Homo sapiens: one gene and its partner. The protein of the gene in region 1 purifies or fractionates together with the protein of each later gene. This does not show direct contact. Each region holds a gene or a part of one and is shown on either strand. Other genes may lie near its edges.

The links.
Region 2: the proteins of SBK2 (region 1) and TMPRSS11E purify together in Homo sapiens (affinity purification with mass spectrometry; one large-scale study listed by BioGRID and IntAct). This does not show direct contact.

What each region holds. Positions count from the first base shown.
Region 1 is NC_000019.10:55,534,334-55,538,262, reverse strand, and holds the start of SBK2 (serine/threonine-protein kinase SBK2), read left to right. Parts: upstream 1-1,129; 5' UTR 1,130-1,209; intron 1,210-1,966; 5' UTR 1,967-1,968; coding exon 1,969-2,221; intron 2,222-3,929.
Region 2 is NC_000004.12:68,495,284-68,498,104, forward strand, and holds the end of TMPRSS11E (transmembrane protease serine 11E precursor), read left to right. Parts: intron 1-1,359; coding exon 1,360-1,521; 3' UTR 1,522-2,321; downstream 2,322-2,821.

The sequences.
Region 1 (3,929 bases):
CAGGAGTCCAGGTCCTCAACCCCCTCCTCCCTCAGGCCCAGGAGTCCAGGTCCTCAACCCCCTCCACCCTCAGGCCCAGGAGTCCGGGTCCTCAACCCCCTCCTCCCTCAGACCTAGGAGTCCAGGTCCTCAACCCCCTCCTCCATCAGGCCCAGGAGTCCGGGTCCCGTGTAGAAAATGAAATCATTTCTGGAACCCACCCCTGCCTTGACCCCACCCAGCTGCCCCATCAATGCCCCATTGACAGGTCAGACACAAGTGCTTGGAGAGGGGTGTCCAGGGGATCAGATGCTGGGGTCTAGTTTGGGGAAAGAATGAGACAATGAGATTCCAGAACGATGCAGTGTGGGATGACCTCAGACTCAGAGGGGCGGGAAGCAGGTGCTGGAGCAACTGGGAAGAGAGGCCTTGAGGGGGTGGGGAGGCCTCAGTTCTGCCGGAAAACTTCAGATGGGTGGGGGAGGCTGAGGCCTGGACTCCTGGGTCTGAGGGAGGAGGGACTGGGGCCTGGACTCCTGGGTCTGAGGGAGGAGGGGCTGGGGCCTGGACTCCTGGGTCTGAGGGAGGAGGGGCTGGGGGTCTGGACTCCTAGGTCTGAGGGAGGAGGGGCTGGAGACCTGAATTCCTGGGTCTGAGGGAGGAGGGGCTGGAGACCTAGACTCCTGGGTCTGAGGGAGGAGGGGCTGGGGTCTAGACTCCTGGGTCTGAGGGAGGAGGCACTGGGGGACTGGATTCCTGGGTCTGAGGGAGGGAAAGCTGGGGGCCTGGATTCCTGGGTCTGAGGGAAGAAGAGCTGGGGGCCTGGACTCCTGGGTCTGAGGGAGGAGGGGCTGGGGCCTGGACTCCTGGGTCTGAGGGAGGAGGCACTGGGAGACTGGATTCCTGGGTCTGAGGGAGGAGGCGCTGGGGGCCTGGACTCCTGAGTCTGAGGGAGGAGGAGGGGCTGGGGCCTGGACTCCTGGGTCTGAAGGAGGAGGGCTCAACTCTTGGGTCAGGGTATTCACCTGACCACAGCCAGTTCCAGGAGTCATCACACGATGTCGCTCTGCTCCCAGTGGGGGCAGAAGGGGCGGGCCCAGGGGCGGGGCCTTACGACCCCCAAAGTCGGGGCGGGGTCTTGCTCCTAGGCAGGCCTCTGCTGGCATGAGCCCTAAGTGCCGGGCACTGACCACAGCCGGCGGCCGGAGGGTCAGGAGGGCCTTGGAGGAGGTGAGGTCTGGAGGTCTGAGCCCAGGTTGGGAGGTGGGCAAGGTGCCCTGGCCTGAGGTGGGCAGCACCTGAGGGTGACTGTACCAGGTGGCCCGAGTCCTCGGTCCCTCAGGGGAGCCTGGGCTGCACCTGGAGGCTGTAGAGCGGTGGAGGGTGAGGGAAACAGAATCAGGGGGTCCCCAGTTGTGTGAATTGTATGAGGTTCCGGGAGAGAGGTGGGCTGGGGGCCTGGACCCCTGGGCCTGGCGGAGGAGGGGCTGGGGGGCTGGGTCGGAGGGAGGTGGGTGGGCTGTGAAAGTGGGACCCCAGGCCTGTCAGGAGCTTGGGGACTGATCCCAAGTGCTCGGTCCCATGCAGGACCCAGGCGTCCCAGGCCCTCTGCACAGCCCGCCCTCCCAGCCCTGAGCCCAAGAGCACCTGTTTGTTCTCAGGAGACAGAGTCTACTCATCCACCCCCAGGGCCCAAGTCTGTTTGCTTTGGAAACAAGATGGGGGAGTCTCAGTTATCTGGTTCATCTTTCAACCTCAGGGTGGGCGGGTGGCGGCGGCGGCACGCGGGCAGGGACATCTGTGACCTGGGGCTTGAACTCACACCAGACTTGTCTCCCCACCTCTCACCAAGAGGGAGACTGAGTCACAATGAGAAGCGCGATGAGCCCCCAGCCCCTCCTCCCTCAGACCCAGGAGTCCAGACCCCCAGTCCCCTCCTCCCTTGGGCCTGGGACCTGAGCCTGGGCACCCCTCTCTGTTCTCGCAGAGATGCCCGGCAAACAGTCTGAGGAAGGGCCGGCGGAGGCAGGGGCTTCGGAGGACAGCGAGGAGGAGGGTCTGGGCGGCCTGACATTAGAGGAGCTCCAGCAGGGCCAGGAGGCTGCCCGCGCGCTGGAGGACATGATGACGCTGAGTGCTCAGACCCTGGTCCGAGCCGAGGTGGACGAGCTCTACGAGGAAGTGCGTCCCCTGGGCCAGGGTTGCTATGGCCGCGTCCTTCTGGTCACCCATCGTCAGAAAGGTACGAGGCTGTGGGGCCAGAGGTGGCAGGGTTCAGCTGGGGGCGGGGCACGGGCCTGGGGTAGCCCAGGCTGGGGAGGCTGGCAGGCCTGAATCAAGTCTTACCTCTGCCCTCCAAAGCTGTGTGTTTTTTGTTTTTTGTTCTTTTGGTTGGTTGGTTGTTTTTGAGACAGTCTGGCTCTGCCGCCCAGGCTGGAGTGCAGTGGCACAATCTCACTGCAACTTCCACCTCCCAGGTTCAAGTGTTCCTCCTGCCTCAGCCTCCCATGTAGCTAGGACTATAGGCATGCACTACCACACCCAGCTACATTTGTGTGTGTGTGTATTTTTCTTTCTTAGTAGAGATGAGGTTTCACTCTGTTGGCCAGGGTGGTCTCGTACTCCTGGCCTCCAGTGATCCGCCTGCCTCAGCCTCCCAATTGCTGGGATTACAGGCATGAGCCACGGTGCCCTGCCAAAAACTGTGTTTTGAGGAACTCCCTTGCCCTCTCTGAGTCTCAGCTTCCTCCTTTGGAAAATGTGGGTGATGATTTCTACTTGGAAGAATGGTGGATCCTCTGAGTGAATGTGGACTGCTCTAGTTGCTGGGGTTGTATAATGCTGGGTAAGACAGAGCTCCCAGCTCAGGAGCCTCCTGTGGCGGCTGTAGTGGTCACCGTGGGATGATGCAGAGTGATGCTGTCTGCTAAGCACTTAGCAAGGCCGGCACACAGTGGGTGCGCAGGACAGCTCCCCACTACCCTGGGCCTTTCTGCCAAGCACCGTGTCCTTCCATGAAACGGAAAATAGGGAGGCAACCTGAGGTCAGTCAGTTCAGGGCACGCCTTCTGAGGCCAGCCCTGTGCTGGGGGGGTTGGGCGGGCAGTGGACCCAGAATTGAACCAGAGCCAGTCCCTGCCTTCAAAAATCTCCTAGCATGAATGCAGAAAAAGTGTGCATTCATCTGCTGGGGCTGCCATAACAAAGGCAGGCGCTTCCACAACAGAACTTTTGACTTTTTTCTTTCTTTTTTTTTTTTGAAATGGAGTCTCGCTCTGTTGCCCAGGCTGGAGTGCAGTAGCACAATCTCAGCTCACTGCAACCTCCGCTTTCCAAGTTCAAGTGATTCTTGTGCCTCAGCCCCCCGAGTAGCTGGGATTACAGGTGCATGCCACCATGCCCAGCTCATTTTTGTATTTTTAGTAGAGATGGGGTTTCACCATGTTAGCCAGGCTAGTCTTGAACTCCTTATTTCAAGTGATCCTCCTGCCTCAGCCTCCCAAAATGCTGGGATTACAGGTGTGAGCCACTGTGCCTGGCCTTTTTTCTTTTCTTTTTTTTTCTTTTTTTTTTTTTTTTGAGACAGGGTCTCGCTGTTGTCCAGGCTGGAGTGCAGTGGCACAATCATAGCTCACTGCAGCTTTGACCTCCTGGGCTCAAGGGATCCTCCCACCTCAGCTCTGCAAGTAGCTGAGACTACAGGCGCATGCCACCATGCCCGGCTAATTTTTAAATGTTTTTTTTAAGATGGGGTCTCACTGTGTTGCCCAGGCTGGTCTCAAACTGGCCTCAAGTGGTCCTCCTGCCTCAGCCTCCCAAAGTGCTGGGATTACAGGTGTGCGCCACCGTGCCTGGCCAACAACAGAGCTCTGTTTCCTCACAGCTTTGGAGGCTGGAAGCCCGAGATCAAGATGTCAGCAGGGTTGGTTCTCCTGAGGCCTCTCTCCTTG
Region 2 (2,821 bases), on another chromosome or scaffold:
CTATCTCTTTAAAATAATTATTTATTCTCGGACTCATTTATTCCTGTCTCTTATGCTGATTAAAGCTTTGTTTTCTCTTGTATCTTCTATTTCTCTATCCTGATTTTCTCTGCCTGCATATAGACTTGGGATTTTATTATCAAAATTATTTATTTTTGAATAGCTTCATATGGCATATCTTATTTCTATAAGCAGATTGCAGGTTTCTAGAGGACAAGATCCATGTGTTTATAATACTCTTTTTATATCTCCTCCTACATACGAGGGTATCAGTAAATGCTTATTGGTTAGTTGATTTAAAATCACAAATGTATTATTTCAAATTTACTATTATATTAGTTAATTTTTTAAATGGACAAAAGAAAATTCACAAGGAAGTTAGCATAACGTAGGGAAAAAAGCATGGGCTTCTGAATTAGATCGCTCTGGATTCAAATTCGGGGTCTGCCACTGATTAGCACGTGATCTCAGGCAAATTACTTAATGTTTCTGAGTTTCAGTTTTCTTAGTAACCCAGAAAAAATTAACCTAGTTCTATGTTTTTTGTAAACAAGAATTACATGAATTAATGAGATAATATTTTAATCAATTAAGAACTTCATAGAGTGAGTATGAATACTTAATGGGTGGTCAATAATTAGAAGCGCCAGGATCTTGAGGAATAATCAGCCAGTACCTCATTATTACAAGCCATATAAAGAATCAAAACTCTGGAGTTTGCAGGATATAAATAATGAGAATTTGTGATTTTATATATGCATTTCCTAAGTTCTGCCTTTTGCTAGACTAAGCACTTTACATTCACTGTCTTACATCATCTTCATAGCACTCATCACAGGTAGGTATTATTAGGAGCATTTACAGATAAATAAATTAAAGGTCTTAGCCAGCATGGAAAGGCCAAACTTGAGATAGAAACCCTGGTGTCTGACTCTAATGTCTGTTTTTTTTTGTTTGTTTGTTTTTTTAAAATCAGTAATAGACTCTTCACTCCCTTTTTTGGGGGGTTATGTTACACTAATAAAGAGTATAGACAAAATAATTAGGGAGTTATTTTGTCAGATGTGTCACATAAGTTAAGAGTACAGTTCTTCAAAGAGATGGAGGCTTCAATCTCATTGTTTTGAAGGTTTCAAGGTATTTCAAGGTTTCAAGGTTTCAATCTCATCAGTTTTCAAGGTATTGGAGGTCCTCTTTTAGGTGGATAACTGACATAGATGGAGAAAATCACTTATGCATGCGAACACACGGAATACTTTTGAAAATTACCCCTTTCATTACATTCTTAAGTTAGAAAAATAGCCAATTCCTCTGTAATGAACTGAATTATGAATTACTAATTTCTGTCTTCTCCTTTAGGGTGACTCTGGAGGACCACTGGTTAGTTCAGATGCTAGAGATATCTGGTACCTTGCTGGAATAGTGAGCTGGGGAGATGAATGTGCGAAACCCAACAAGCCTGGTGTTTATACTAGAGTTACGGCCTTGCGGGACTGGATTACTTCAAAAACTGGTATCTAAGAGAGAAAAGCCTCATGGAACAGATAACATTTTTTTTTGTTTTTTGGGTGTGGAGGCCATTTTTAGAGATACAGAATTGGAGAAGACTTGCAAAACAGCTAGATTTGACTGATCTCAATAAACTGTTTGCTTGATGCATGTATTTTCTTCCCAGCTCTGTTCCGCACATAAGCATCCTGCTTCTGCCAGATCAACTCTGTCATCTGTGAGCAATAGTTGAAACTTTATGTACATAGAGAAATAGATAATACAATATTACATTACAGCCTGTATTCATTTGTTCTCTAGAAGTTTTGTCAGAATTTTGACTTGTTGACATAAATTTGTAATGCATATATACAATTTGAAGCACTCCTTTTCTTCAGTTCCTCAGCTCCTCTCATTTCAGCAAATATCCATTTTCAAGGTGCAGAACAAGGAGTGAAAGAAAATATAAGAAGAAAAAAATCCCCTACATTTTATTGGCACAGAAAAGTATTAGGTGTTTTTCTTAGTGGAATATTAGAAATGATCATATTCATTATGAAAGGTCAAGCAAAGACAGCAGAATACCAATCACTTCATCATTTAGGAAGTATGGGAACTAAGTTAAGGAAATCCAGAAAGAAGCCAAGATATATCCTTATTTTCATTTCCAAACAACTACTATGATAAATGTGAAGAAGATTCTGTTTTTTTGTGACCTATAATAATTATACAAACTTCATGCAATGTACTTGTTCTAAGCAAATTAAAGCAAATATTTATTTAACATTGTTACTGAGGATGTCAACATATAACAATAAAATATAAATCACCCATTTGCTTGACATTATGATATGATAATCCACAAAGAAGGGGAAGATGGGAAAAATGTTACTAGTCAATTTATTGTAAATTTTTTTAAAATTTGAGGCTAGGATGAAAATTAATTTAATAACAATCAGCATGCTTATGTACTAAAATAATTGTGTTGTGGAATGGGAGGGAACGAAGAGTTCAAACAATTGACTGGAAAGGTTTTATTCATCTAAGACTTTCCCAAACAGCAAATCCTTGAAGGGAATGAGATCCAGGTGTTAGTGTACAGTCTAGTCATGCAACTGAACTGGGGCTCAGACCTCTATTTTGAGATGATTGTAGATATTTTTCTTCCCCTGCTGCTGTGTTTACAGTTCATACATGGTTAATGGTCCTGTTAGACTCCTCTTCGCTGAGATGGAAAGATACCATAGAGAAAATATCCTGGAAGCTGCCTCACTGCTGCATCTAGTGTGACACTGAATGGCTAACTGCCTGGATAACAAAACTGAAGAGTAAA